2 separate regions of the Homo sapiens genome follow, and region 2 is linked to region 1. Evidence: fine-mapped expression QTL. A gene starts in region 1. The other region holds a variant in brackets. All regions are shown on one strand. Distances are from middle to middle.

Evidence for each region. PIP is the estimated chance that this variant, and not a neighbour inherited with it, causes the effect.
Region 2: its variant is fine-mapped to the expression of CRCP in hypothalamus (GTEx, PIP 0.93).

What each region holds. Positions count from the first base shown.
Region 1 is chr7:66,107,324-66,123,539 of GRCh38, forward strand. It overlaps CRCP (CGRP receptor component), which reads left to right and starts at 7,524. Exons shown (of 6, transcript NM_014478.5): 1 at 7,524-7,647. The coding sequence starts at 7,640. RefSeq lists silencers at 6,400-6,590, 8,019-8,313 and enhancers at 7,237-7,366, 7,904-8,432.
Region 2 is chr7:65,690,785-65,707,000 of GRCh38, forward strand. All of the region lies in intron 3 of LINC03006 (long intergenic non-protein coding RNA 3006), which reads right to left. It also overlaps the pseudogene INTS4P2. Among named protein-coding and RNA genes, the nearest start is that of SNORA22, 57 kb to the right of the region's middle. RefSeq lists a silencer at 8,892-9,186. The variant C/G (reference allele first, on the strand shown) is at 7,618.

The DNA of each region.
Region 1 (16,216 bases):
TCCTGGTCACAGCAACCTCCGCCTCCTGGGTTCAAGCAACTCTCCCTCAGCCTCCCAAGCAGCTGGGATTACAGGCATGCACCACCATGTGGGATCATTTCAAAAGCTTCCTCAGTCACACGTCTTGTATTTAGACTGGGAAGACTCGAATGGCTGAGGGCTGGGACAGACAGGACATCTCACAGTATAACTGTGTGATCTCTCCATGTAATCCCTCCAGCATGGTGGTGTGGAGGCAGCTGGGCTTCTTATAGGCTGGCTTCATGCTCCAAAGGCCCATAGCCCCAGAGAGAGCCAGGTGGGAGCTGCATTACCTTTTCTGACGCAGCCTCAGCAGTCATGCAGTCTCTTTGACCACATTCTACCTCTTAGAAGTGAGTCAGGGCCAGACGTGGTGGCTCATGCCTATAATCCCAGCACTTTGGGAGGCTGAGGTGGGCAGATCACCTGAGTGAGGTCAGGAGTTCAAGAGCAGCCTGGCTAACATGGTGAAACCTCATCTCTACTAAAAATACAAAAATTAGCTGGGTGTGGTGGCACATGCCTGCAATCCTAGCTACTCGGGAGGCTGAGGTAGGAGAATCGCTTGAACCCGGGAGGCAGAGGCTGCAGTGAGCCAAGATCGCGCCATTGCACTCCAGCCTGGAAAACAGAGGGAGGCTCTGTCTCAAAAAAAAAAAACAGAATTAGAAGAAGTAAGTTGGCCAGGCACAGTAACTCTCACATATAATCCCAGCACTTTGGGAGGCTGAAATCGGAGAATCATTTGAGCCTAGGAGTTCGAAACCAGCCTGGGCAATGGTGGTGAAACTCCATCTTTACAAAAAAATACAAAAATCTACCGAGAGCAGTGACTCACACCTGTAATCCCAGCACTTTGGAAGGCCGAGGTGGGCGGGTCGCCTGAGGTCAGGAGTTTGAGACCAGCCTGGCCAACATGGTGAAACATCATCTCTACAAAAAAATACAAAAATTAGCTGGGCGTGGTGGCAGGCACCTGTAATTCCAGCTACTTGGGACCCTGAGACAGGAGAATTGCTTGAACCCAGGAGGCAGAGGTTGCAGGGAGCTCAGACCGCGCCATTGCCCTCCAGCCTGGGCAACAGGAGTGCTACTCCATCTCAAAAAAAAAAAAAAAAAAAATCAGCTGGGTGTGGTGGTGAGCACCTATGGTCCCAGCTACTCAGGAGGCTAAGGTGGGAGGATCGCCAGAGCCCAGGAGGTCAAGGCTGCAGTGAGCCGTGATTGCGCCACTGCACTCCAGCCTGGGATACACAGTGAGATCCTGTCTCAAAAGAAAAGGAAGTAAGTCAGGAAGGCTAGACCATGTTCAAGGTGGGGAGGAGTTAGACTCCACTCCATGAGGGGTGTCAGAGAATTTGCAGACATGGGCTGGGCATGGTGGCTCACACCTGTAATCCCAGCACTTTGTGAGGCCAAGGCAGGCAGATCACAAGGTCAGGAGTTCGTGACCCGCCTGAACAACACAGTGAAACCCCCATCTCTACTAAAAATACAAAAATTAGCTGGGCAGGGTGGCAGGCACCTGAAATCCCAGATATTCAGGAGGCTGAGGCAGGAAAATTGCTTGAAACTGGGAGGCGGAAGTTGTGATGAGCCAAGATCATGCCACTGCACTCTTGCACTCCAGCCTGGGTGACAGAGCGAGACTCTGTCTCAAAAATAAAATAAAGAAATAAAGTAATAATAATAATAAGTGTGTAGCTCCTCCCCTCGTCTCTTGGTCCTGCTCCCCTTCACCTTTGTCATGAGTAGAAGATCCCTGAGTCCTCCCCAGAAGAAGATGCTGCCTTTCTTCCTCTAGAGCCTGTGGAACTGTAAGCTGATTAAACCACCTTTTTTTTTTTTTTTTTTTTTTTTTTTTGAGACAGTCTTGCTCTGTCGCCCAGGCTGGAGTACAGTGGCAGAATCTCGGCTCACTGCAAGCTCCACCTCCTGGGTTCACACCTTTCTCCTGCCTCAGCCTCCCAAGTAGCTGGGACTACAGGCACCCACCACCACGCCTGGCTAATTTTTTGTATTTTTTAGTAGAGACAGGTTTTCACTGACAGGATGGTCTTGATCTCCTGACCTCGTGATCCTCCCACCTTGGCCTCCAAAAGTGCTGGGATTATAGGCGTGAGCCGCCACGCCCAGCCAAACCACCTTTCTTTATAAATTATCTAGTCTCAGGTATTTCTTTTTTCTTTTTTAGTCTCAGGTATTCCTTTTTTTTTTTTTTTAAGACAGAGTCTTGCTGTGTTGCCCAGGCTGGAGTGCAGTGGTGCAATCTCAGCTCACTGCAAACTCTGCCTCCTGGGTGAAGAGATTCTCCTGCCTCAGCCTCCCCAGTAGCTGGGATTACAGGTGTGCGCCACCACGCCCAGCTAATTTTTTTTGTATTTTTTAGTAGAGACGGGGTTTCACCATGTTGGCCAGGCTGGTCTTAAACGCCTGACCTCATGATCTGCCTGCCTCAGCCTCCCAAAGTGCTGGGATTACAGACATGAGCCACCATGCCCGGCCTTCAGGTATTTCTTTATAGAAGTGTGAGAATGGAGTAATACAGAAGTCCTAAATCAGTCTCACTGGGTTAAAATCAAGGTGTTGGTAGGGCTGCAGTCCTTTTTTTTTGAGTCAGAGTCTCGCTCTGTTGCCCAGCCTGGAGTGCACGATCTTGGCTCACTGCAACCTACCCCTCCTGGGTTCAAGCAATTCTCCTACCTCAGCCTCCCAAGTTGCTGGGATTACAGGCGCCTGCCACCACACCCAGCTAATTTTTTAAATTTTTAGTAGAGACAGTGTTTCACCATGTTGGCTAGGCTGATCTCAAACTCCTGACCTCAAGTAATCCGCCTGCCTTGGGCTCCCAAAGTGATGGGATTACCGGTGTGAGCCGTGGCACCCAGCTGGGCTGCAGTCCTTTCTGGAAGCTTCACAGGAGAATCTGTTTTCTTGCCTTTTCCAGCTTCTACAGTTACCTACATTCCTTGGCTCATGGCCCCTTCCTCCATCTTCAAAGGCAGGAATATTGCATCTCTCAGATCATTCTTCCCTTCCCTAGCCACACCTCCCTTGGGCTCTGACATCAGGTGAGAATGATTTTATGCTTTTAATGATCCATGTGATTATGTTGATACCACATAGAAAATCCAGGATAATCTTTTCTTCTTAAGGTCCATACCCTTAATTGTCATGGTGATCAGCGACTATCCAGGACCAGAGGTGCAGACAGTAAAAAGAATGTTTACTCGGCTCACTGCAACCTCCGCTTCCCGGGCTCAAGTGGTTCTCCTACCTCAGTCTCCTGAGTAGCTGGGATTACAGGCGCCTGCCACCATGCCCGGCTAATTTTTGTATTTTCAGTAGAGATGAGGTTTCACCATGTTGGCCAGGCTGGTCTTGAACTCTTGGACTCAAGTGATCCACCCGCCTTGGCCTCCCGAAATGATGGGATGACAGGCATGAGCCACCGCACCTGGCCTACCGGGTATCATTCGAACACCCAGCTAACTCCCTACTCTAAGTCACACCTGAGCCATTTTATCATGGGGGCTGTCAGAGGCACTGCTGTTTTTCACTGAAGCCCATACCCAATCCCTCGGCCTCGTGTGCTTTTCCCTCACCCACTTCAAAGGCCCGTGGCTTTGGGACGCCTCTCCACCTCATTAGTCATTCCCTCCCCTGCCCATCGCGTCGAAACACAATGCATTGTGGTTATTTATGTCCAGAGCTGGTTCCTCAACTAGGCTGTCAGCTAGCCAGTGCAGAGGGTGTGTGTTAGTCACATTTGTATCATCAGCCCCCGATGGGCCATGGCTACATACTTGTTGAGTGAATAACACAAGGGGCATCTTTAGCATTTCTTTGTGGGGCCCAATCTCCTCAGCGAAGGTACAGGGAATTCTCCACACTAACTAGGCCAGCTGGGTCTGGGTGGCATTTTATGACTTTTTTGTTGTCGTTATTTTGCGATGGAGTCTTGCTCTGTCACCCAGGCTGGAGTGCAGTGGCGTGATCTGCAACCTCCGCCTCCCAGATTCAGACGATGCTCCTGCCTCAGCCTCCTGAGTAGCTACGATTACAGGCACGAGCCATCAAGCTGGTTAATTTCTATTTTTTTGGTAAAGATGAGGTTTCACCATGTTGCCCATGCTGGTCTCAAACTGGGCTCAAGCGATCCACCTGCCTTCATCTTCCAAAGTGCTGGGATTACAGGTGTGGACCACCACACTCAGCAGAGTAAAAAATGTTTAACAGCTTTATTAATATAGGATTAATATGCTGTACAATATGCCATTTAAAGTATACAACTCAGTGTCTTCAGTATATTCACAGGGTTGTGCAACCACCACCACCATCTATAATAATTTTAGACAATTTCTGTTTCCCAAAGAGAAACTCCCTACTTATTAGCAATCACTTCCCATCCTTGCCCCCAACCTAGCCTTCTGTCTGTATCCATAGATTGGCCTCTTCTTGGACATTCTATATAAAGTGAATCATACCATATGTATTCTTTTTTTTTTTTTTCTAGAAGGAGTCTCATTCTGTCACCCAGGCTGGAGTGCAGTGGCGTGATCTCGGCTCACTGCAACCTCCGCCTCCTGGGTTCAAGCAATTTTCCTGCCTCAGTCTCCCGAGTAGCTGGGATTACAGGTGCCCCCCACCACACCCAGCTACTTTTTGTATTTTTAGTAGAGACGGGGTTTCACCATGTTGGCTAGGCTGGTCTCGAACTACTGACCTCATGATCTGCCTGCCTCAGTCTCCTAAAGTGCTGGGATTACAGGCGTGAGCCACCACGCCTGGCGATTTTTGTATTTTCGGTAGAGACAGGGTTTCCCCATGTTAGCCAGGCTGGTCTTGAACTCCTGATCTCAGATGATCCACCCACCTCAGCCACCCAAAGTGCTGGGATTACAGGCGTGAGCCACCTGGCCAGGCAATATATATTATTTTGTGTCTGGCTTCTTTCACTTATTAATAGCATCATGTTTTGGGAGGTTATCCATCTTGCAGCATTTATCTATCAGTCTGTCTATATATATTTTTTGCAACAAGGTCTCTCACTCTGTAGGCTGGAGTGCAGTGGTGTGATCATAGTTCCCTGCAGCCTCTACCTTCTGGCTCAAGCGATTCTCCTACCTCAGCCTCCCCAGTAGCTGGGACTAGAGGTGCTCACCACCACACCTGGCTAACTTTTCGTAGTTAGGGGGTCTAGCTATGTTGCCCAGGCTGCTCTGGAACTCCTTGTCTCAAGAAATCCTCCTGCCTCTGCTCCCCAAAGTGCTGAGATCAAGCCTGGCCTCCTTTTTATTTTTATATTTTTGAGACAGAGTCTTGCCCTGTCTTCCAGGCTGGAGTGCAGTGGCACGATCTTGGCTCACTGCAAGCTCTGCCTTCTGGGTTCACGCCATTCTCCTGCCTCAGCCTCCCTAGTAGCTGGGACTACAGGCGCCCACCACCACGCCCGGCTAATTTTTTTTGTATTTTTAGTAGAGACGGGGTTTCACCCTGTTAGCCAGGATGGTCTCGATCTCCTGACATCGTGATCTGCCCGCCTCGGCCTCCCAAAGTGCTGGGATTACAGGCGTGAGCCACCGTGCCCGGCCAGCCTCCTTTTTAAGTAGTTTTCCATTGCACAAATGTAGCACATTTTATTCATCCACTCATCAGTCTCTAGTTAATGCATCTGTTGTATATGTTCAGATTGGCTGGGGTTCAATACCCACTGGACAACTTCCTAGATGAGTGACTTTTGGTAAATCATAATCTCTCCAAGTCTGCCTCAGTTTCTTCAATTATAAAATGTCAATAATAATGCAATGTACCTCATAGAGAGTCATGGTTGTATTGCCACAGTAATTAATAAAGTGCCAGGAACTTTATAAGGATTATTTAACACCCTTATTATTTACAAAGTAGGCAACAGAGGCTATTGTGGTGGTTCACACCTGTAATCCCAGCACTTTGGGAGTTGGAGGTGGGAGGATCACTTGAGGCGAGGAGTTCAAGACCAGCCTGGGCAACACAGTGAGACCCCCATCTCTACAAAAAAATTAAAAAATTTTGTAGCTGACTCTTTGGACAATAAAGAATTTTATTTTAGAAAATTAGCCAGGTGGCTGGGTGCAGTGGCTCACGCCTGTAATCCCAACACTTTGGGAGGCTGATGAGGGTGGATCACAAGGTCAGGAGTTCAAGACCAGCTTGGCCAAGATGGTGAAACCCCGTCTCTACTAAAAAAATACAAAAATTAGCTGGGCATTATGGCGGGCACCTGTAATCCTAGCTACTGGGGAGGCTGAGGCAGGGAACTGCTTGAATCCAGGAGGCAGAGGTTGCAATGAGCCGAGATCACGACACTGCACTCCAGCCTGGGCAACAGAGTGAGACTGATCTCAAAAAAAAAAAAAAAGAAAAAGAAAAAGAAAAAAAGAAAATTAGCCAGGTGTAGCGGAGCGCACCTGTGGTCCCAGCTACTCTGGCAGGCTGGGGTGGGAGGATTGCTTGAGCCCAGGAGTTCAAGGCTGCAGTGAGCTCTGATTGCACCACTGCATTCCAGCCTGGGCGACAGAGCAAGACCCTGTCTCTTAAAAAATAAATAAATAAACTGCAATGTTTCTGGCAGCCCAGATGCCACCAGCCTCACTACTCTCTGAGAGGTGGGATTTTAACATGCAAAGGCCCACTAACCCGATCACGTCTCACAACTTCAGCTGATTAATACTTTGTTAAAACCTAGACCACGAAAACAGACAGAGCCCGGCGAGGTGGCTCACGCCTGTAATCCCAACACTTTGGGAGGCCGAAGCGGGTGGATCACGAGGTCAGGAGTTCAAGACTAGCCTGGCCAAGATGATGAAACCCCGTCTCTACTAAAAAATACACAAATTAGCTAGGCGTTATGGCGGGCGCCTGTAATCCCAGCTACTCGGGAGGCTGAGGCAGGGAATTGCTTGAACCTGGGAGGCAGAGATTGCAGTGAGCCGAGATCGTGCCACTGCACTCCAGCCTGGGTGACAGAGCGAGACTCTGTCTCAAAAAAGAAAAAAAGAGGCTGGGCACGGTGCCTCACGCCTGTAATCCCAGGACTTTGGGAGGCCGAGGCGGGCGGATCACGAGGTCAGGAGATTGAAACCATCCTGGCTAACACGGTGAAACCCCGTCTCTACTAAAAACACAAAAAATTAGCCGGGCTTGGTGGCAAGCGCCTGTAGTCCCAGCTACTTGGGAGGCTGAGGCAGAAGGAGAATCGCTTGAACCCAGGAGGCGGAGGTTGCAGTAAGCCGAGATCCAGCCTGGGCGACAGAGCGAGACTCCGTCTCAAAAAAAAAAAAAGGTTAAAGAAAAAAAGAAAAGAAAACACAAGATAATCCTGTCCGCAAACGCTTAGCAGTCTTAAATCGGCCTGGTGGAAGGATGCAGGGACACTCCCCCACCCTGCCCCCCGAAAAAGGGGAACGCGCAGCGCGAGGTTCCGGGTCCGCCAAGCTCCCGGCATGCAGCGCGGCGATCCCGGCGAGCACCTTGGCGCGCGGAGCTGGCACCTTGGCGCTGTTGGTGGCGGCGGAGACAGCTGTGAAGTGTGAGGTTCTTTGTCTGCTGGCAGCTAGGGGCGACGAGGCGGGACGTCATGGAAGTGTAAGTCTTCTCGGGCGCGTCCCTTTTCGCCCGAGGAGCCCAACGGTTTGACCGCTGAGAGCTGAGAGCCGAGAGCCGTGGGGACTGGGCGACCCTCGTACGGGAGTGAGGGCAGCGGGCCGGCCCTGTCCGGGAGGGCCGCGGGGTGGTGACGGGGACGAACGGGACTCTCGCTTTGCCCTTCCGAACCTTCGCTTCCCCTCCACGCCGTGTCTGGTGCGGGGCCGAGCACTTCCGTGTCCGGCTGCCTTTCAATGTGCCCCCTCCTTCTCTCATTCGTTTACCAGCGTTTCTGGGTCACAGTGCGGGGGTGGAGCCCAGTCTGGTATCCGACCCCGGACTTAGAAGGCTATAAAGGCCTGAGTCTGTCCGCCCTGAAAGTAGGTGGAGGAGAGACGAATCAGGGCCGGGTAGAGCTCTGCTTGCAGCTGTAGGCCCCTGGAGAGCCCTCGGAAGAGCTGCCCTCGGAATTTGATGGGAGCAGTAAACACTGTGAGGGAAGGGGCTGGTTTTGGGGTGGAGAAGGGAAGGACGTGAACCAGGACTGGGACCAGAGAAACAGCAGGGGGTGTGTGGGTGTGTGTGCAAGGCGAGGGTAAAAGATTTTCTGACAGTTTAACTCCACGTGGTCTTTTCCATGCTTGCTCGTTGCGCCTGGTGCAAATGGAAGATTTTGCATCTACTCTGAATGTGGGCTTTATACGGTTGATATTAATTTGTAGGTATTACTATCTTGTGTTCTCTTTGAACTGATTATTTGATACAGTTTCCTTTATGTTCTTTTGCCTCATGTTTAATGGTTATATGTACTATGGCATTTCACATTTTTACATTTTTAATTAATTGTTTTTTCTTAAGAAACAGGGTCTTGCTCTGTCCCCCAGGCGGGGTGTAATCATGGTTCACTGCAGCCTCACTTTCTGGACTCAAGCAATCCTGCTTCAGCCTCTTCAGTAGCTGGGACTACAGGCCCACGCCATCACTCACCGCTAATTTTTTAAAAAAAGTTTTGTAGATGCAGGGTCTCACTACAGCCCAGGCTGGTCTCCAGCTCCTGAGCTCAAGTGATCCTCCTGCTTTGTACTCCCAAAGTCCTGGGATTGCAGGCGTGAGCCACTTCACCTGGCCTCTTCCGATTTTTTTTTAAACACAATATGTCTGTGTAACTGAAATGAAAGGCTCATGAAACAATAATGTGTGGCGTACACTCTCATATTGTCTATTTTTTATTAATATGAATGGGGCCAACCGTGGTGGCTCACACCAGCAATCCCAGCACTTTGGGAAGCTTAGGCAGAAGGATCACTTGAACCTGGGAGGTGGAGACCAGCCTGGGCAACATAGGGAGACCCTGTCTCTGCAAAAAATTAAGAAGTTAGCTGGGTGTGGTGGTTCATGCCTGTAGTCTCAGCTACTTACGAGGCTGAGATGGGAGGATCACTTGATCCCAGGAGGCTGCAATGAGCTGAGATAGAGCCACTACACTCCTGCCAGAGTGACAGTGTAAGGCTCTGTCTTAAAAAAAAAAAAAAAAAAAAATTGAACCACTGAATTAATTTTGCAACCCACTGATGGGATTTCATCTGCAACCTAAAAAACTATTCATATAATTTACTCTAGTCCAAGCCATCATTACTAATTTTTCCCTCTTTACTAGAGCATTTCCTGTGAGCATACAACCCTGCTTTAGAGAATTCATCTTAGAAAATCCTCCGTCCCCACATACATGTCCCCCTCTTACTCCATTTCTGCTTCCCATCCCAACAAAACTTCTTGAAAGTGCTGATTAGCCCCTCATTCTCTCAGCCATTCTGTTGGGCTTTCATCCTCACTGGTCTACGGGAATGACTGTTAAGATTACCTGAACCAGCGGGGCGTGGTGGCTCATGCCTATAATCGCAGCACTTTAGGAGGCCGAAGTGGGCGAATCCCCTGAGGTCAGGAGTTTGAGACCAGCCTGGCCAACATGGCATAACCTCCTCTCTACTAAAAATACAAAAATTAACTGGGTGTAGTGGTGGGCGCCTGTAATCCCAGTAACTCAGGAGGCTGAGGCAGGAGAATCGCTTGAACTCGGGAGGCAGGGGTTGCAGTGAACCAAATTGTGCCACTGCACTCCAGCCTAGGTGACAGGGCAAGACTGTCTCAAAAAAAAAAAAAAAAAAAACCTGATCCCTCCATCTTGTCAAATTCAGAGGTTGATTTTCTGGCCTCAACTTTCTTGATCTCTCAGCAGTGGTTAATACAGAAACTCTAGAAACTTTCCTTTTCTTGTGATGTATGTTCCTTTGCGTATTTCCTCCTACATCAAGGACTACTTCAGTGTCCTTCCCTGGGTCCCGTTCCTCTCTTGCTTGATGTCTAAGTGTTGAGTGGTATCTTAGGGCTCAGTCCTGGGACCCTTTCTCTCCACACTCTGTCATTTCACCCATCTATGTGCTGATGGTTCTCAAAGGTATGTTTCTAACCTTCTTCTCATCATCTATCCAATTGCATAGACCAAAAATCTAGCCCTCTCTCTTCACTCCCTAAATCCAGTCCATCAGTGGTCCTGTTGTTTCCACCCTAGAATATATTTTGAATGCAGTTACTTTTCACCATCTCCAATGTTAGCTTTGTAGTCCATCACCTCTGGGCTGGATTAAGCAATAGCCTTTGAGTGTTCACTCTTCCCCAGCCTCCATTCTGTTCTCCACATGGCAACTGGAGTGATCTTAAGTAATGATTGGAACATGTCGCTCCTGGGTAAAACCCTTCATTGACTTTCCATTGTACTTAGAGAAAATCTCCATCTCTTACCAGGACCTGCAAGACCCTGTAAAACCTCACCTACTCCCCAGCCTTACCACTTGCCACTCTCCCAACCTCCCAGACACACACTTTCCACTGACAGGTATTTCCTTCTCCTCTAACCTTCTAAGCACTTCCTGAGGACCATTGCGTTGTGGTACCCTCTGTCTGGTATACTTTCCTCCTCGCCCTCGTCCTGTTCTCTTCTTTTTATTGTTCTTTTTTTAGTTCGCTTTTGAGATGGAGTCTTGCTCTGTCACCCAGGCTGTAGTACAGTGGCGCAATGTCAGCTCACTGCAACCTGTGCCTCCAGGGTTCAAGATTCTCCTGCCTCAGCCTACCAAGTAGCTGGGATTACAGGCGTGTGCCACCACGCCCAGCTAATTTATGTATTTTTAGTAGAGACGGGGTTTCCATGTTGGCCAGACTGGTCTTGAATTCCTGACCTCAGGTGATTTGCCTGCCTCAGCCTCCCAAAGTGCTGGGATTACAGGCGTGAGCCACCACACCTGGCCACCTGTTCTTGAAGGTTGTGTCCCTTTTCAAAGTTGCCTTTCGTCTTCAGTAAGTCTAACTAACATAAGTTCTTTTTGTCTTTCATAGTACCTTGATTTACTTTCCCTCAAATAATTACAAGTTGCAATAATAAATGTATGTTTACTTGTTTGGAGGGTGGGGACCAGTGTCTGTTCACCTAGTGCTTAGCATTGCATCTGGCACACAGTAGGCATTCAGCAAATACTTGTTCAATAAAGTAATATAACAATACTTTATTAGCTTCATAAATATAGTCATCTCTCAGCGTCTTTGGGGGATTGGTTCTGGGACCCCCTGCGTATACCAAAATTCACAGATGCTCAAGTCCCTGATATAAAACGGTGTAGTATTTGCATATAATCTATGCACATTCTCCCATATACTTTAAATCATCTCTAGATGACTTATTATGATACCATGACATGTAATACCGGTTTTTGTCCATGGTTCCTGGCTCATAACTACCATAGCCTTTATTACTTCCTAAATGACTAAAACAGTAAGCATAACTTTTGTTAAAGTATTTGTCCTTTGTCCAAGGTTCCTGAAGCGGCCTTGGGACAGCTTCAGAGCAGTAAAGGTGAAAGACAGTCTTTTGTTAGAATGTTGGGGCACTCTAAGCCTCAGAAGCAGGCCTCAGAAAACAGAAGCTCTGTCTGTCTCTTGCCCTCTAATCATCCCCTGCCTTTCTGTCTTAGAGCTGGTTGTAAAGAAATTCTCTGACCTATCTCGTCTGATTGTTTCAGAGGGGGTCCTGCCCCTTACCCAGTAGGAAGGAATACCACACACAGAGGCCAGGGAGAATCTGGATGGGCCTTGCTGGGTGTCTGCACTCAGTCTTAGTATTAGATCACACTCTCTGTCCAGTCAATTACTGTGAGGTTGGCCATGCTTCAATCATCTCTCTAATGAAATCTCTACAAAACGCCCAAGAGAACTTCTGGATAGTCTAACAGGTGGAAGTTTCTGGAGGGTGGTATGCCTGGGGAGGGCATAGAGCTCTGCGCCCCCTCTCTATCCCTCACCCTGTGCACCACTTCATCTGTATGCTTGGTAATATCCTTTAAATAAACCAGTAAACCTAAGTAGGTGTTTTGTGAGCCATTCTAGCAAATTAATGAAGCCTAAAGAGGAGGTCTTGGGAACTGCAGCTTGAAGCCCGCCGTTGAGAAGTTCTGGAGGCCCTGACTTGTGTGACTGCTGTCTGAAGTAGGGGCAGTCTTCTGGGACTGAGCCCTCAGCCTGTGGAATCTCACACTGTTTTCAGATAGTGTCTGAAATGAATTGGATTGGAGGGTACCCAGCTGGTGTTGGCTGCAGAATTGATTGCTTGTTTATTGGTAGAGAGAAAACCCCACACATCTGGTCACAGAAGTCTTCTGTATTGATTGTTGTCGAGTGAGAGCAGAGGAAAAACTGTTTGATTATCAACCAACTTGTCATATCTGATGCAATGTAAAGGCTGTGTAAATAGTAGTTGTACTGTGTTGTTTAGGGAATAATGACAAAAAGCAGTCTATCCATGTTCAGTGTAGAGGCAGCCATCCTAGGCCTAACTACATAGTACATGTCAGCAACAATGTAGCATTTTCTTAAAATTTTTTTTTGCAGCCCGGTGCTCATGCCTGTAATCCCAGCACTTTGGGAGGCTGAGTGGGGCGGATCATGAGGTCAGGAGATCGAGACCATCCTGGCTAACACAGTGAAACCCCTTCTCTACTAAAAATAGAAAAAATTAGCTGGGCGCTGTGGCGGGCGCCCGTAGTCCCAGCTACTATCGGGAGGCTGAGGCAGGAGAATGGCGTGAACCCGGGAGGTGGAGCTTGCAGTGAGCCAAGATCGCACCACTGCACTCCAGCCTGGGCGATAGAGCGAGACCCCGTCTCAAAAAAAAAGAAAAAAAGAAAAAGAAAAAAAAATGTTTTTTGCATGTTTTTCATTTGAGGTTGGTTGAATCTAAGGATGTGGAACCTGAGGCTAAGGAAAGCCGACTGTATAAATTCATTAGCTAGCATCCTAGTTGCTAGGCGTGTATATTTTCTGATTTTCCTAAGTGAAATGGTTTGAATCACGGGGTTTTGTTCTTGTAACAGCCTGTCCCCTTCTGCCAAGTAGTCAGTGACTTCCTGTAACCAATCAAGAATTTTGCAGCCAGTAATTCATGGGAAAATGAGGTTTCCTGAGATAGACATGTGATTTGGGAGTGGAAGGGCCCTGGAGTGGAAAGGTCTGGAAGCCTAACTTCTGGTCCTCACCTGGTCTTCAACAGGAGGCGTGACCTTTGGAAGTCTGCTCCTTAGGATCTTTAGCAGAACCTTGAGTTGCAGATACAGTTGACCCTTGAACAACACGAGCTTGAACTTCATGGATCTCCTTATACGCAGATTTTAAAAAATAAATGCAGTTGGCCCTCCATATCTGCAGGTTCCACATCTGCAACCAAACACAGAGAATGAAAATATAGTATTTGAGGGATGAGAATATACCCACGTATGTGGAGAGCTGGCTTCCTAGCTGCTGGTTCTGCAAGGCTCTCTGGGACACAAGCATGTTTGGATTTTAGTATATGTGGGGGTCCTGGGACCAATCTCCAGTGAATACCAGGGGATGCCTGTATATTGTACCTCTATCAGACACTCCCAGAACCTGAAGTGAGGAGGCACAATGAACAGCTCCCCTAAGTTTTTGCTACTTTTTAAAATTCTGATTGAGGAAATACCTACTAAGTAACTAATACATAATAATAATAATAATAATAATAATAATAATACCTGAAATTTCTTCTTTTTTTTTTGAGATGGAGTTTCGCTCTTGTCACCCAGGCTGGAGTGCAATGGCGCAATCTCGGCTGACTGCAACCTCCGCCTCCCGAGTTCAAGCAGTCCTCCTGCCTGAGCCTACTGGGTAGCTGCCTGGCTAATTTTTGTATTTTCAGTAGAGATGGGGTTTCATCATGTTGGCCAGGCTGGTCTTGAACTCCTGAGCTCAGGTGATTCTACCGCCTCGGCCTCCGAAAGTGCTGGGATTACAGGCATGAGCCACCGCGCTGGCCCAGAAATTTATTTAAGGGGAGGAATATTTATGCTTTATTTGATTGACAATTTAAAAATAAAAATTTCTTGACCATTACTTGGAAATGTATTTTCGTCAAGTAAAAGCATACAATTTTTTTTTTTTTTTGAGATGGAGTCTCACTCCATCACCTAGGCTAGAGTGCAGTGGTGCAATCTCAGCTCACTGCAATCTCCACTTCCTGGATTCGAGCGATTCTTCTGCCTCAGCCTCCTGACTAGCTGGGACTACAGGCATGCGCCACCATGCAAAATATTTATATAGCAAAATTAGGTATTTCTATCTATAAGGTATTTGCTATTTGGCTTTGTCTATAAATGATCATTTATATGGCTGGAAAAGTTTGTATCCACTCTTTTATTCTTGAACGTAATATATATAATTGGGAAAATAGACATTATCCTCTGTACCATCTTTTTGAGGTAGTGTCAGGATTTCTTTCCTTTTACAGCTGGAAATACTCATATTTAGAAAAGGTGGGTAATAGGTACTATAACAACTCAGTAACAGGACTGGAAAGAGGATACTCATTTGCTAGCTCCCAAGAGAATGCTACAAGTTAAGTTGTTCATTGACTTCAGAAGCTGCTCCGTTTGCTTGTACCAGAGTTTAGGTTTTCAGAGCATGACTTGATAGCATAGGTTGGGCATAGGAGAATTTGAGCAATTATTTTCGTCATTGCCTGTGTAAGAGTTGACTGTGTGGCAATTAATAGGCACTGTTTGGCCGGGCACAGTGGCTCACGCCTGTAATCCCAGCACTTTGGGAGGCCGAGGTGGGTGGATCACAAGGTCAGGAGATCAAGACCATCCTGGCTAACACAGTGAAACCCCATCTCTACTAAAAATACAAAAAATTAGCCGGGCGTGGTGGTGGGTGCCCGTAGTCCCAGCTACTTGGGAGGCTGAGGCAGGAGAATGGCATGAACCCGGGTGGCGGAGTTTGCGGTGAGCTGAGATCGCGCCACTGCACTCCAGCCTGGGCGACAGAGCAAGACTCCGTCTCAAAAAAAAAAAAAAAAAAAAAGGCACTGTTTGCATGTGCCATTTGTGTATGTGTTTGCTTCTAAGGAAAGTCCACCAAGAGATCATTTTGTTCTGTTTATTTGGAATTCAGTTTCCTCAAGTAGTTGTTTACATCCACTTGACTCACCATTTTAAGCAAATTTTACAAGAAGTGTCAAATGGAAAGTCAGCTTCAGTCATCTAATTCATTACTTAAGGAAATTAAGTAACTGCCTGCCTGTAGTATAGATTTAGACAGTTGTTTTGTTTTTTTTTTTACTCAAGCATTGCTATGTTAATTTGCCAGGCTGCTTTTAGAAAGCACCAGACACTGGGTGGCTTAGACAGCAAACACTTGTTTTCTGACAGTTCGGGAGACTGGATCAAGGTGTAGCAGGTTTGGTTTCTTTTGAGGCCTCTTGCCTGAGCTTGCAGATTGCAAACTTCTTGATATGTTCTCACATGGTCTCTCCTCTGTGTGCACAAGTCCCTGGACTTTTTTCTAGACAGTCTTTAAAATGCACTTAGAGTATTTGCTTTAAACACATGTCAATAAAATGAGTACTATTCTTTCTTTCTTTCTTTTTTTTTTTTTTTTTGAGATGGAGTCTCGCTCTGTCGCCCAGGCTGGAGTGCAGTAGCCCCATCTCGGCACACTGTAAGCTCCGCCTCCCGGGTTCACGCCATTCTCCTGCCTCAGCCTCCTGAGTAGCTGGGATTACAGGCGCCCGCCACTACGCCCGGCTAATTTTTTGTATTTTTAGTAGAGACGGGGTTTCACCGTGTTAGCCAGGATGGTCTTGATCTCCTGATCTCGTGATGCGCCCGACTTGGCCTCCCAAAGTGCCGGGATTACAGGTGTGAGCCACTGCGCCTGGCGTAAAATGAGTACTATTCTAAGTCCTACAGGAGAATATGAAGTTTTGTATAGGTAAGCAGTTTCTAGAAGTCTGATTGCATGTGAATATATTACATAATACTAAAGTGTTAGCTGTAGAGCAGACAGTTCCTGCTTTGTAGAGATCAACAGCTTCTACGTTTATAATTGCTAGATGTGTCTATTAAGTTCTAATAGCTCTAAAAAACTTTTAGATGCCTGGTATGGTGGCTCACGCCTGTAATCCCAGTACTTTGGGAGGGCAAAGCGGTCAGATCACCTGAGGTCA
Region 2 (16,216 bases), 420 kb before region 1:
CAGAAGGTTGGTTTCAGGATTGGTCATTCAACAGGTTACCAGGGCTCTCTTTGGTTTCTCTGCAGTTCTCTTGGCTCTTTTTTTTTTTTTTTTTTTTTTGAGACAGAGTCTCTCTTTATCGCCAGGGTGGAGTGCATTGGCATAATATCGGCTCACTGAACCTCCGCCTCCCAGGTTCAAGCGATTCTCCTGCCTCAGCCTCCCGAGTAGCTGGGACTACAGGCCCGTGCCGCCATGCCCAGCTAATTTTTGTATTTTTAGCAGAGATGGGGTTTCACCATGTTGGCCAGGATGGTCTTGATCTCTTGACCTCCTGATCCAGCCATCTTGGCCTCACAAAGTGTTGGGATTATAGGCGTGAGGCACCGCACCCGGCCGGCTTTCTTCTCATGGTTGTAAGATGGCTGCCTCATAAGATAATATCTCAAGACAGAAAGGAAGGGTCATTCCCTTTCATGCATTGCTCTTTTGATTTGCAAAAACATCCCTGAGAAGCTCCCCAGCCAGCATACTCTCGTGCTCCATTGTCTAGAACTGGCTTACTTGCGTACCAGCAAACCAGTCACTGGAAAATGGGAATGGGGTTGCCATGATGGGTTTAGACCAATAGTGGTTCAGCTCTTGGGCTGGACCTGCCTTTTCCGAGCACTTTGCTGCCTGCCTGATACCTGAGTAAAATCAGGGCTCTCTCAGGAAGAAAGATGGGGGAAATGGCTGTTGGTTAAATAAACAGTTCTTTTATCTTTATAATAACCAGTTTTTTTAGATGAATTAACCAAGTTCCAGAATAACTGGGTGACTTATCTGAAGTCATAGAGTTAGCAAAAGTATATGGTTGAGAATTTCCAATTCCAGTTCAGGTTTTCTGATTCCAGTTCCTAGTACTTTTCAAAGGACTAACTTTACTAATTTGTTGATGTGCATTCTTATTTGTTTGTTTCAGGTGCTTGAAGTTTCTGGGAAGTCGGCATCCAACCCTGGTGCTTCCCTTGGTGCCAGAGCTTCTGAGCACCCACCCATTTTTTGACACAGCTGAACCAGACATGGATGATCCAGCTTGTATCCTCTGTGCTTAGGATGGGCCCTGATGTGTTGGCAGGCAGCTTTGGCATCTCCTTCTGCAGTGTAGCTAGGGTGGTCTGAGTTTTCTTTTCTTTGCTTTTCTTTCCTTTTTTTTTTTTTGAAGACAGAGTCTCATTCTGTCACCCAGGCTGGAGTGCAGTGGCTTGATCTCGGCTCACTGAAACCTCTGCCTCCCGGGTTCAAGCAATTCTCCTGCCTCAGCCTCCTGAGTAGCTGGGATTATAGGCGCCCGCTACCACACCCAGCTAATTTTTGTATTTTTAGTAGAGACGGGTTATCACCATGTTGGCCAGGCTGGTCTCAAATTCCTAACCTGTTGCTTGGGCTGGAGTGCAGTGGCACCACCCCAGCTCACTGCAACCTCCGCCTCCTGGATTCAAATGATTCTCCTGCCTCAGCCTCCCAAGTAGCTGGGATTACAGGTGCCTGCCACCACTCCCGGCTAATTTTTGTATTTTTAGTAGAGACGGGGTTTTACCTTGTTGCCCAGGCTGGTCTCAAACTCCTGACCTCAACTGATCCACCCGCCTCAGCCTCCCAAAGTGTTGGGATTACAGGCGTGAGCCACCATGCCTGGCCAGTATGTACTTTGATAGGCAATATAGTTGCTTACTTTATAGGCAAAATCATTTCCATTTTTTTGTATTCTTGGCAGTCTCTGGCATTTTTAAAAACCTTTGGTAATTGGGGGTGTGGGTGGAGTAGGGGAATGTATTTTGTTGTTTGTATTTGCATTTCTTTGATTATTAGAAAATCATAGTCTCTTGATGGAGATTTTGGAGGTGGAAAGTGAGAGTGCCAGAATCTGGCCAACCTTTTATACTTCCAAGTTTACTTAACCCAGTGATCTATCAGATATTGCAGTTTTGGTACTTATTTTCAATGCTGCTAAAACCTGTCCAACAATGCGAGCATTGTTCTCAGATCACACCGTCAGGCACTATGCCTACCTCCGAGACAGTCTTTCTCATCTTGTTCCTGCCTTGAGGGTATGTTGAAAACATCTGTTGTCCTTGTTTTTATTTTGCATGGGGTAGGGGTATTTGTGTTCATGTTTTCCTTTGAGATGGGGGTCTTGTTATGTTGCCCAGGGCGGTCTCAAACTCCTGGGCTTAAGCCATCCTCCTGGCTCAGCCTCCCAAGTCGCTGTGATTACAGGTGAGCACCATTGTGTGCAGCTTGTTTTTGGCTTTTTATTTTTTGTGCTTTGTGGTTATTAAATAGTAGAAAGCAGTCCATATATTCTCTGAAAACTTGTTTGTTCATTCTCCTTCTCTCTTGGGCTCTTTGCCATTGTTTTATACTTTTGCTTTTGTATCCTTTACCTTTTAAGATGATTCATTTTTTTTGGTGTCCCTGGGTTATTGATATTAGGCAAGAAGAAAGGAACCTGGAACAATAGATTATATTTTAGATCAAGAATTTAAATTGTTATATATTTATTTATTTATTTTTATTATTATTACCTTTTGAGACGAAGTCTCGCTGTGTCGCCCAGGCTGAAGTGCAGTGGCGCGATCTCGGCTCACTGCAAGCTCCGCCTCCCAGGTTCACTCCATTCTCCTGCCTCAGCCTCCCGAGTAGCTGGGACTGCAGGCACCTGCCACCACACCCGGCTAATTTTTTGTATTTTTTAGTAGAGACGGGGTTTCACCGTGTTAGCCAGGATGGTCTTGATCTCCTGACCTCGTGATCTGCCTGCCTCGGCCTCCCAAAGTGCTGGGATTACAGGCATGAGCCACCACACCCAGCCTAAATTGTTATATTTTAACTATTACATATAGCCATGATTCTCCAGAAGTGCTTATTTTTTAAAAATAAAACCTTTACTATTTTTAAAACCTAGAGATATAAAGAAGAAAATTTAAAAATGGATCGTAATAATAATAGCAAACACTTCGTGAATGCTGTGGCCCAGGTACTCTTCCAATCTCTCTATTTGCATTAACTCATCCCTGCTTGGGTGACTCCAAATCACTTTATTTGGAGTAATATACAAAATGAGGCCAGGTGCGGTGGCTCATGCCTGTAATCTAAGCATTTTGGGAGGCTGAGGCGGGTGGATCATCTGAGGACAGGAGTTCACGACCAGCCTGGCCAACGTGGTGAAACCTCATCTCTACTAAAAATACAAAAATTAACTGGGCATGGTGGTGGGCACCTGTAGTCCCAGCTACTCGGGAAGCTGTGGCAAGAGAATTGCTTGAACCCAGGAGGCAGAGGTTGCAATGAGCCAAGGTTGTGCCACTGCACTCCAGCCTGAGCGACAGAGTGAGACTCCATCTCAAAAAAAAAAACAAAAAACAAGTAGATACAAATTGAAAAGTGAAATACTCTTTGCTCTCTCCTCCCCATCCATCTTAAAAGGTAACCACTTTTAACAGTAAGAATATCTGAAGGGCTAGGCCAAAAATAAAAAAAAATTATTCTCATGAAAAAATTGTATGCTATATAAGTTTATTTGGGAATAAATCATTACTCTTCCTTCAAGTGAAAGATAAGATAGTGTTTTAAAGATAAATGTGGCCGGGTGCAGTGGCTCACGCCTGTAATCCCAGCAGTCTGGGTGGCTGAGGCAGGCGGATCACCTGTGGTCAGGAGTTCGAGACCAGCCTGACCAACATGGAGAAACCCTGTCTCTACTAAAAATACAAAATTAGCTGGGTCTGGGGGCGGCCACCTCTAATCCCAGCTACTCAGGAGGCTGAGGCAAGAGAATCGCTTGAACCTGGGAGGTGGAGTTTGCAGTGAGCCGAGATGGTACCATTGCACTCTAGGCAACAAGAGTGAAACTCTGTCTAAAAAAAAAAAAGATGTAGCAACAGTTTAATTTTTAGTCTCCTTCCTATGGTTGGCCCATTTATTTCAGTTAGCAATAGAAAATATTATACCTTTTCTGTTTTTCTCCTGGCAGCTGTGGCTGTATTGGGTAGACCATGTTTGCATTTTGTCTCTTTCTCTTTAACTCCCAATTGTTGCTGAGGAAGGGGAGAAATGTTATTTATAGAATCTCCTAGCCTTTTTTCCCCTTTGTTTTGTTTAGCTCACATTTTTAATGTGCTTTTATGTGTTTGTGTGTGTGTTACCAAAAGCTGAGCCACCAAACTTAATGACTCTATAATCCCACTGTGTTTGCTTAGTTACCAGGTAGAAAACTGGTGTCATCAGCTGTTTCTCCCAGCATCATACCTCAAGAGGATCCTTCGCAGCAGTTCCTGCAGCAGAGCCTTGAAAGAGTGTATAGTCTTCAGCACTTGGACCCTCAGGGAGCCCAGGAGCTGCTGGAATTCACCATCAGGTAGGGTAATCATCCCTTCATCTGACAGAGTTAGTGCCGTTACACTCAGCTTGACTGTTCTGAATTCTGGTGTTGGTTACTAGGCTTGATATTCTGACTCTATTGGTCTACATTCACACACGGTTTTATGGTCTGTTTATATTTGGATTAGATTGTGGTTTGAACATATTTTTTAAAAGAGCTCTTTATATTCATGACTCGATTGATGATTAGTACACAACAAAATAGTTACAAAGAACCTGTTTTTAGTTTTTTAATTTTATATATTAGGATGAGTGACCAAAATGCAAAGTAACAGTGGCTAAAACAGGAGCAAAGTTTAAGTCTTCCTCATAGGCAGGACAGGGCTGAGATGACCATCAAGGATCTAGGCTTGCTCATTCTTTTTTTTTTTTTTTTGAGACAGGGTCTCACCCTGTCACCCAGGCTGGAGTGCAGTGGCATAATATCAGCTCACTGCAACTGCAGCCTCCTGGGCTCAAGTGATTCTCCCACTTCAGCCTCCCAAGTAGCTGGGACCACAGGCATATGCCACCACACCCGGCTAATTTTGGCTTTTTTTTTTTTTTTTTGGTAGAGTCGAGGTTTCACCATGGTGGCCAGGCCGGTCTCAAACTCCTGAGCTCAAGTGATCCTCCCGCCTCGGCCTCCCGAAGTGCTGGAATTACAGGCGTGAGCCACTGTGCCCGGCCTAGGCTCATTCTTTCTTGTGTCTTCATCTTCTGCATCAAGCAGCTCTGCTTAACAATTCAGAATCTAACTGTCCCCCCTGTATTCCATCCTGTGGGGAAAAGGAAACGGGAAGAGAAAGGTATCATCTCCACCCTGTGGTTTGTTTAAAGACACTTCCCAAAAGTTGTACACTCTAATTTTACTTGCATTCCATTGACTAGAACTTAAGTCACATGGCCATCTCTCACTTCAAGGAGCGAGGACATGCAGTCTTTATTCTGGGTGACTAATGCCTGGTTTACATGCGATGACTCTAATACTCAGGAAGAATGGGAGAAAGATATTGGGGAACAACCAAAAGGCTCTGCCAGACCTTCCTCAAAATGGCCTGAATGATATGAAAAGAATTTAAACTCATTTGCTTTTAGCAAAAGCAGTATTGTTTGCTCTTAAAAGATTAAAAAATTATGTCTTTTAAGAGCAAACAGTACTGCTTTTGCTAAAAGCAAATGAGTTTAAATTCTTTATTGTTTGCTCTTAAAAGAGAAAAATATTATATCGTCCAGGTGCAGTGGCTCATGCCTGTAATCCCAGCACTTTGGGAGACCGAGGCGGGAGGATCACTTGAGGCTAGGAGTTCAAGACCAGCCCCGCTGAGTGAAACCCCGTCTCTACTAAAAATAGTAGCCTGTAATCCCAGCTACTTGGGAGATTGAGGCACAAGAGTCGCTTGAACTCGGGAGGCGGAGCTTGCAGTGAGCCAAGATCATGCCACTGCACTCCAGTCTGGGCAACAGAGTGAGACTCCATCTCAAAACAAAAAAGAAAGAAAGAAAAATATTATATTATATCATTTGTATCTTGGTTGAGATCTCTTTTGATCTGCCCGGAAGAGTATTTGGCACCAGCCACATTCAACTAATAATTTTTAGTGGATGATTTCATTCCATACACTAAGAAACAAGCTCTGTGCTAGATACAGATCAGCTAGCTAGGATTCTGCCCTTAGAGAGCCCATGTAGACAAGATGGATATAGACAAAGACTTATGATGGTGGATAACAGCGCTTTGTACTTTGTTCATGCTTTCCTGTCCATTATTGCATCTTAACATGTTATAAAGCCGGCCAACTGAACCATCCTCCAAGTTATGTTTTCCCATTATATTAGGTCATTCATTCACTTAGCAGCATTAACTATTTGTTTATTCTAATAAGCCAGTTGCTGAGGGTAGAGAGAAATAAGAAATGACATTTGTTCTTAAGGTACTCACTGTTTATTACAGGACGCAGAAATCATCAATTTGATAAATGATACAGTGAAGAGAAGCATAGATGCTGTGGAAAAACAGATGAAAGGCCCCGACCCATCACAGTAGTAGTGGTGAGGGATGCTTCACAAAGGAGAAGATCCTTTAGCTAGTATGAAATGATAACTGAGCATGTCAGTTTCGTAGTCCATGTGCAGAAGAGAATTCCAACTTCAGCAGACATTAGAAGAGCTGGGAGACCTGAGGGAGAACAGCCTCCCAGAACTGCAGTGGTGTAGTATAGAGATTGAGTGAATGGAGCTTTGAAGGCAGACTCATTTTGGTTAACGTCTGAGCTAATACAGTCATGCACTGAATAACAACGTTGTGGTGGTCCCATGATTATATTTTTACTGTACCTTTTTTATGTTTAGATATACAGATATTTACCATTGTTTACCATATTTACCAATATTTACCATTGTAACCAGTGTTACAGTTGCCTACAGTCTTTAGTACAGTAACATGCTATACAGATTTGTAGCCTAGGAGCAACAGACTATCCCATATAGCCTAGGTGTGTAGTAGGCTATACCATTTGGATTTGTGTAAATATACTCTATGTGATGTTTGTGAGACAAAATCACATAACAGTGTATGTCTCAGAATGTATCTCCATCGTTAAACAACGCATGACTTGTAGTTGTTTGATCTTAGTCAACTATATTGCTCAGGGTTCATTTGCAGAAAACAAAAGAGGCTTTTAACTAATTTAAGCAGAAAGAAATTTATTACAGAATGTTACATGGCTCACAGAGTTGTTGGGAAAGCTAAAGAAACAGACTAGGTGGAATATCCAGGAATGATTTCCAGAGCCACACAATGAGTGGGCCACCAAGGAGGCTGATGTTCCTGCTATTATCAGGAAAGCTGCCTATTGAGTCAGGATGCTACCAATAAAGCTGCTGGCTCCAGAACCGTGTCTTGCATTCTGCCTTTCTTCCGACTTAACATTGTTCCCTATACAAAACTCATGCGAATGTGTTTGATTGACTGATAATAAATCACGTCTGGAACCTAGCTCAAGGGAATCTGAGAAATGCAGTTTTTAACTTTGCAGCTTATGTAGTCCAGGAAGATACAGTAGATGAAGATAGGAATACCACGTGTGAGTGAGCCAAATCCAGTATATGCCGTAAGTACCAACTGCTGTTAGCTCCAGTTTACTCACCTGGGGGACTTGGTGACTTGCTGGGTGCAGGGGTGGGAGTGAGGAACTGAGAGATAAATGGGTGGTCTGATACTCTAGTAATCCA[C/G]TAAAAAGTTGAGGGTGTCCTGGGCTCCCCTGGGAGTGCCGTGGGCTTGGGCTGGACAGGTCGTGGGGAGAATGCTGGGTAGGTGGGTGCAGCTGCAGCCACAGGGGAGCCAGAGTGTGCAGCATGTGTCCAGCGTGAGCCTCCCGAGCTTCCACCTGGGTCACATAGTCTTTGTGCCCCTGGGAAGCCTCTAGAAGCCACACAGAGGCCCATAGCAACTCTCATGCCCTGGAGGGTCTCACCAGCCACTCCAGTGATGGGCCCTCCAGTAGCTCTGGGACCCAAGCAGGGATGATTCACAAAGTCCCTACCGAGCACAGGCCTTCACAGTTCAACAAGAAAATCCTACTGTTGACTGGATTTTTAAAAATCAGTGGAGGAGATCACACTAGAAATGATAGATATTGCAAGAAACAAAGCTTGAGGGAAAGCTTGTTACCGTAATGAATGGACTCACACATATCACTGCTTTGCAGTGATAGCATCAGCCAAAAGGGCTGCGAACATGAATCATTAACAAGTTGAAATATGTCAAAGATGGCTGTGTGGTGTGAAGAAGCTGCATTAGCTGCACAGGCTAAGGCTAAATGATATTCTAAATGGCAGAGTGTTCACCTGAATACCATCACTGTAATCAGTAACAATAAAAGATAGGGAAAGCTGAATTATTTTTAAGGTTGAAATGATTTTAGCATGACAGTTTGTTCTCTTGCCACTGTACATTGAATCATATACTTGATGTTTATTGTGTGCCTGTGATGTGCCAGTAACAGTACTCTAAACTAGGAGTCACCAGACTACAGCCTGTGGACCAAAGCTGGCCTGTTGCCTGCTTTTGTATGTAAGATCTGATTGAAGCACAGCCACGCTCATTTGTTTAGGTATTGTCTATAGTTGCTTTCATGCTACAATCACAGAGCTGAGTAGTTGCCACAGAGACCATAAAGTTACTATTTTACCTTTTACAGAAAAAATTTGCTGACCCTGCTGTAAGTTCTGGGCAGTCCACAGCTCTGTAAGCGGAGATTCCAGTCCTTTCTATATCTCTTGTGGAGCGATTTCTCTTCTCCCTCAACAAAGTGTTTAGTTTTGGAGGCCACTGAATGAGGTTGTTGGCCCTGAGCCCAGTAAAATAAAGTCTACTTCCTGACTCATCCCCACGTAAATAAACATTTAGATTTTGTCCTTGACAGTTTTATCCTGTTGGCACTAAAGCAAGTGCAAAAGGCACAAAAGCTAGCCAATTTGGTGATCAGCTGCAGTGCTGGCTCTTAGAAGGTACTCGCCTTCATGGTCTGGGTTTCCTGAGATGATAGTCTTGCTAGGCAGTGGCCGGCCAGATCACTGTCCTAAGTTCGGGGCTCTGTGTTTCTAGCTTGAGTGTGTATTCAGGAGCACAGGCAGGATGGTGAAAAATCTGGAAAGGGAAGCAGATGGACCATAGCAGTGAGGGCACCTGCGATGCTTTACAACCATCATTGCAGACATGAAGTAATTTGCTAAGAAGAGGCAGAACGAGGATTTGAGTTCAGCTTTGTCAACTCTAAAATCCATATTCTGTGATGTGCAGTGATTTACAGGGGGTTCCTGTATCACATGAGATTAGATCAGTTGACCCCTGGGGTTCTCCACAACTTACACTTTCTGAGTTGTTATGGAGTGAAATGTTAGCCTTTCATACAGAAGGTTCTCTGATGAGGACTGGAGCCACGTATTTGTTAGTATGAGTGTAAAACAAATTTCACTGTCATACACAGTGCCCTGTTTTGTAATCCAAACAGCCACTTAACCCAATGAAGATCTCACCTATGAGCCAGATGCTGTGGCTCGCACCTGTAGAACTGTTGTGAAGATGATTGTAATGATATGTGGTAAAAGCATTTTGAGAATATCAGTTACATAGATAATAGTTGGACATTTATGGATGTTTGCTTTAAAATTTAAACTAACTGGCCGGGCGCGGTGGCTCACGCCTGTAATCCCAGCACTTTGGGAGGCCGAGGTGGGCGGATCACGAGCTCAGGAGATGGAGACCATCCTGGCTAACACGATGAAACCCCGTCTCTACTAAAAATACAAAAAATTAGCCAGGCGTGGTGGCGGGCGCCTGTGGTCCCAGCTACTCGGGAGGCTGAGGCAGGAGAATGGTGCGAACCTGGGAGGCAGAGCTTGTGGTGAGCAGAGATCACACCACTGCACTGCAGCCTGGGCGACAGAGCGAGACTCCATCTCAAAAAAAAAAAAAAAAAAATTTAAACTAACTATGGCTTATTTAACATACTGGACATGCTCTTGACATTTTGTAACTAAATCAAATTTTATAAATGTAATCATGTTTAAACTCACTAGCAGGGTTGAAGGGGATTGTCTTTTAAGGAATGCTGCAGTCATTTGTCTGCTATTTCTCAGTATGAATAGTGACCTCCTGTTTTTCAAAGTTTACATTTTTGTGTTAAGTCCATGAAAGTGCTGTTGCTATACACACTGTTGTTTCAGGAACCATATCACCTTAGAAGTGTTCCATAATAGAGAATTGTTCTTTTGGAGTAAAATAGCTCATTATAACCTGAAACAGAAGGGGCTTCATTTATCAGAGATAGAAAGAAATGTACTACTTTTCTTATGGGAATTCTTTTACACACTAACCATTGAAGAACATGGGATTTTTTAGTTGAATTCTTTAAAATCCTCTTTTTGCTTTGAAACTTTTATTGTCTTTTAGGGAGACTGCCTATTGTGTAGTATTGGAACTGGTCTAGTAATTAAAGAGTAGAAATATGCGTTTGTAATCTGTCATCATCTAGGTGCAGGAATAAAGATGGCGTTTTAGAAGTCACCAAGACTTTGTATTTATGTTGTATTTCCTAACATTCCTTTTTGCTCTACTAAGCTACTAAGAGACATAATTATAAATTTGATTTTTAGAGATTCTAAGAGATTGAAAAAAATAAACTGCATTTGATTTGCACATCCAGAATCTTTTTGACTATCTTTAATAGTGATTTAAATAATTAATTCAGCCTATTGTGTAAGCTTAAAAAGAATCACTCTATGTAAATGTGTTTACACATAGTGGCATAGTGGCATCATATAGATTGCTAATGTGTGTGTTCCTGGGAGGAACTGTTTTGCTCTGCCTGATAGCATCTAAAGAAAAGTGGCCCAGTGTATCCAGTTGTTGTTTTCTTTTTTGGAGATGGAGTCTCCCTCTGTCGTTCAGGCTGGAGTGCAGTGGTGCGATCTCGGTTCACGGCAACCTCTGCCTCCCAGGTTCAAGCAATTCTCCTGCCCCAGCATCCCGAATAGCTGGGACTACAGGCGCACTCCACCAGGCCCGGCTAATTTTTGTATTTTAGTAGAGATGGGGTTTCACCGTGTTGCCCAGGCTGGTCTCGAACTCCTGAGCTCAGGCAATCCACCCACCTTGGCCTCCTAAAGTGCTAGGATTACAGGTGTGAGCCACCGCGCCTAGCCGTATCTAGTTTTAAATTAGTTTTGGTCTCATCTGTGTTTGATGTAATTAATAAATAAATGAAAAGAGTTTAATAGCAAATAAATAAATGAGATGCAATATGATATGGTTAAAAAAATACTTTTGGAGTCAGAGCTGACTCTGTCTAGTTCATGTCGTTTTGTTGTTTATTCTGTGACCTTAGGCAAGCCACTTAAATTCTGATCTTTAGTTTCCTGTTCAGTGAAATAGGATTAATTGCAATTCATATTGTGAGGATTAAGTGAGCTCAAGTAAGGAAACAGCTAGCACAGTACAGTGCACATAGAATGTGCTCAGTGTACCTTTCTCATTAGAGCCCGTAGTCTCCTGATGGATGTCTAGACTGAGGCTTCCTAAGAATTGTGAGCATAAAGTGACAAAGAGAGGAAACACTGGGACACAGGATTTTTCCCAGAGCTAACAAGTTTCCATTTTTGTTTGTACAGAAGTTCAGATTTCTTATGGCTAATTGTGTTGGATTGGGTTACATCTTGTTCTGTGCACTTCAGAACAACTGCTACAATTCTGGGGCAGGGGAATAAAATAACATTTGGAATCAGTTAGTTAATGTACAGTCAGTTGGTCTGTATTCTGTATAATTGTCGTAGAAGGCAGAATCTTCCTGGAGAGGAAACACAAATGCTTCTGAAGTAGAATACTTCAGGGCTGTCTCTTGCAAGAGAAAAATCAGAGAAGTGAAAGGAAGAGACCATCTGGCCACCAAACTCATACTTCACAGTTGGGCTTAGCTAGTCTATGGTCTTGGCTTTCATTGTGCTGGGTTCCCATGCTTTGGGTAGGCCCTCCAGGACCAGTTCAAGCAACCCAAATGAATAAGAAGTGATATATATCATACATTAATTCTTCAATCACTTTGAGAGTAATTACTCTTTGCCCCTTTGTAGGCATCTCCTTCTTGATGTCAAAGTCCCCAGGAGGCATCGTTAACTATCATAACGTTACCCACCAAGCATGAGATGGGAGGAAGTGGCATAGTCCAGTGGACAGTTTTTTCCAGGCTACTGTGAAACCTGATGTGTTATGCCGGCTCTGAAACAGCTTCCCAAGTGACTCAGACCTTAAGGTTTCCCACAGTTTCCATTTCTATTCAGAATTTAATGTTGCTATTAAAAAGTAATGAGGCAGCTTTCTATGAATGCTGAGATGGTTAGGTAATACACAAACACACACACACTCACATTCCTCCCCTAAAAAAGAAGAAAGCAAAGAAAACCAGTACTTTTTGTAAATGCATGGCATATCTCAAAATTCAAAAGAAACTGGTAATAGTAGTTGCCTCTGGGAAGGTATACAGGGTGGCAGGGCTACAGGGCACAGGCGTAGGAAGGGGAACTAATTTAATTTAATTTAATTGTATATCCTTTGAATGCTATACCTTAAGTATGTATTAACTATTCAAAAAAACTAAATTTTTTTTTAAAGAACATCTGTTCTTTAAAGTCGTAGAACATTTTCATCACTCCAAGAAGTTCCTTCATGCCCCTTTGCAAAGTTGTTTGGCTTTTCCAAGCCTCTGTGAAACCCCAGGAATTCAAGGAGGCCATGGAGAAGAATCCACTTTTCTATAGTAGCAAAATATGGTGAGGAAAGAGAAGTGATTACTCCTAAAAAGAACATATAATTGTTGGTTATTCAATGACAAGGAGTGACAGTGTAGGTAAGGGGCCCAGAGCCAGAACCCAAGGCAAGTGTGTTTAATAACAGGAAAAAAGCTAAATAACTTTTGGTACAGCTACCTAGCAGTATATTCTGCAGTCATTAATTCTTTATGAAGAATTATACAACAACATGACAAAATACTTAGGGTGTAATGTTATGTACCGAAAAGAAGGGGAGCCAATCATAATCCCAAAAGATAGTCCAGAACATCATAGTCCTAAAGTGTTTAAATTCCAAAAGACTAAAATCCCTAAAGTCTAAAATCCGAAAACCACAGCCCAGAAAATATCAAAATCCCCAAAATATAATTATGGAAGAAATAGTTTTAAAAACTTAAAGATATTTATTTTTTAAAGGGGAACTTATTTGAGAAACATAAAAACACAACAGAATACTTTATACACCACTTAATATAATAAAACAGACAATAATAACATACATTTTTGCAAGCATAAACACTCAGGTTACTAATAACATTTGGGTGGGTCTAACAGTTATGAGCAGATGAGCCATATTTATAAAGAAATTGGTCATAAAGGGAAAGGTATAAATGCATATCACTTTGGTTGTTAATTGTGTATACCCAGCTTTTTAACTCTGGTCATCTGAAATACTGTGCCCAACAACCTCAAGTCTTTTGATGAGATTGATGGAAACTGTGCTGGGTCACCACTGCATATGCAGTCACCCAAAGAGCTGAGATCTCAAGAAATTTTATCTTTCACAAATGCAGATGTACGAAAAGGATATCTCATTTATCGAGGAAGTTTCAACATTTTATGTACACACTCAATGCTTATACACAAAGTCAGTATTGTGATAATGCACTTTCATGGAGTCAGATTTCTGATATCCAAGCAGCAGAACCCAGAGAGTCCGTTTTGCTATTTTGCGTTTTTTTGTTTTTTGTTTTTTTTTGTTTTTTTTTTTTTTTTTGAGACAGAGTCTCAGCTTATCACCCAGGCTGAATACAGTGGCGTGATCTCGGCTCACTGCTGCGACCTCTGCCTCTTGGGTTCAAGCAATTCTCCTGTCTCAGCCTCCCAAGTAGCTGGGATTACAGGTGTGCACCACCACGCCTGGCTAATTTTTGTATTTTTAGCAGAGACAGGGTTTTGCCATGTTGGTCAGGCTGGTCTCGAACTCCTGACCTCAGGTCATCCACCCACCTCGACCTTCCAAAGTGCTAGGATTACAGGCATGAGCCACCGATCCCAGCCCATTTTGTCTTAAGTATTTGTTCTCTCCTGGCCACTGGCTGATTGGATGGTGCCCGCCAACATTGAGGGCAGATAGTCTCCACCTAGTACACTCAGATTTATACACTAATCTCTTCTGGAAACACTCTCATAGACACACCCTCAATGTGTAAAACAAAATAATGTTTTACCAGGTTTCTGATATTCCTTAATCTGGTCAAGCTGATACCTAAAATTAGGTCCACAAGTCCACCCCTTGTCAGCTTGGCACTCATACGCATCTCCTTAAGCCATATTTAATTTCCAAATAAAGACAATAACATGGTAATAGTTGTGCCTAACATGATACAACTGACATGATGCAACTATCCTGCATGCAACCCAAAACACACTAATCACTTCCCCAGAATTTGGATGTCAGGATTTCAACATTTGTGATTGTATGTTTTGGGATTATGATCTAATCCCCAAACTTAATTCTGCTTTCTGACTACAACTGTCAAAAAACATGCATACAAGAAATGATTAGAAGTAAATATTCCAGAAATTCCTATAGTTTATCTGTAGTTTAGACCTACCACTGTTTGATAGCCACCAGATACATGGGACTCTTGAGCACTTGAAAAGTTGTTAGTCTAAACTGAGATGTGTTATTAAGTGCAAAATACACACTGGATTTCTCAGACTTAGTATGAAAAGAAAATGTAAACTATCTAATTAATAATTTAAAAAATACTGCGTGGTGAAATGTTAATATCTTGGATATACTGGGTTAAATAAACTTTTTAAAAAAATTAACTTAGTCTTTGTATCTTCAAAATTAACTTACATCTTTGTAATTTAAAAACTGTGGCTATGAGAATATTTAAAATTATATATAGCTCATGTTATATTTCTATTGGACAGTGTTAGTCTAGGTTTTCTGTAATGTCATTTGATTACATCTGTAATTCAGAAGGACTGAGAAAATAAGAGGCTGTCACAGAAGTTTGTGCAAGAGATGAGGTCATGTGGATGGATAGGTGAGGAGAGAGATGGAAGGTAAAATCGTGGCTCTTAGTGGTGGTTTTGAATGTAGAAGATTGAAAGAGGGAGAAATCTAGGAAAGCTGCTTGATTTCTAGTTGAATATGTTGGTAAAGTGGTTGGGGCTTATAACATAATGAGCATAGGGGAAAAGAAAAAAGAACCACAGTCAAGGAAGAAGTATCTAGGTGGCTTGGGTTAGTCCAGTGGCTCTGGGAACAAGGAGTGCCTAGAGCCCGGAAGCTGGCTTGCCTGCGCATTCTGGTGAAGGTTTCATGGTTCCTGTCCTCTGCTTCCAGAAGCACTGATCTGGGACACAGAGCCTTTGGGCCAAGAATTGGATCAAATGGATGGGAATTCATTTAGCCCAAACCATTAGTCTCATCTTTCTCCATAATAGATACAGCTTATTGGGTTAAAAGAATAAGATTAATTGAGAAGTCCTGTTCATGGTAGACTTTCAAAGGAAAACAAAAATGTAAATTCCAAATGATATGCCAGTCTTTGTGACGTCGGTATTCTGTTCCCTCCTGATTTGTCTGTGTAGGCCTTGCAGGAAAAGTCGTGGAATGTAGCTGCCCCTTCGTATTTGAAGCAGAGTGATTTGGCCTCAGCAGCAGCAAAACAGGTAAGCTTATTCAGACCTTCCCTTCAAACAGGTCTCTGTCCAGGAATTGTCTGGTCCAAGGCAGAGCCAGAGGCCTTCCTATAGCTCTGTCTCTGTAGGCCTTGCAGGAAAAGTTGTGGCATGTAGCTGCCCCTTTGTATTTGAAGCAGAGTGATTTGGCCTCAGCAGCAGCAACACAGGTAAGCTTATTCAGACCTTCCCTTCAAATAGGTCTCTGTCCAGGAATTGTCTGGTCCAAGGCGGAGCCAGAGGCCTTCCTGTAGCTCTGTACCTCTGCTGTGGCCTCCCTAATTTTAGGCTATGACAGAAGTTAGTGATATGAGAAGGAGCATAACTAGGGGACGCAGCACTCACTGTGGACTCAGGGGACCTGGGTCCTAGTCCCAGGTCTTCCTCTGATTTGCTGAGTGATATTGAGCAAGTTACTTAAATTCCCTGGATTTTTTCTCTTCTATAAAATGTGGCAGTTGGGCCGGGTGTGGTGGCTCACACCTGTAATCCCAGCACTTTGGGAGGCTGAGATGGGCGCATCACTTAAGGTTAGGAGTTTGAGACCAGCCTGGCCAACATGGTG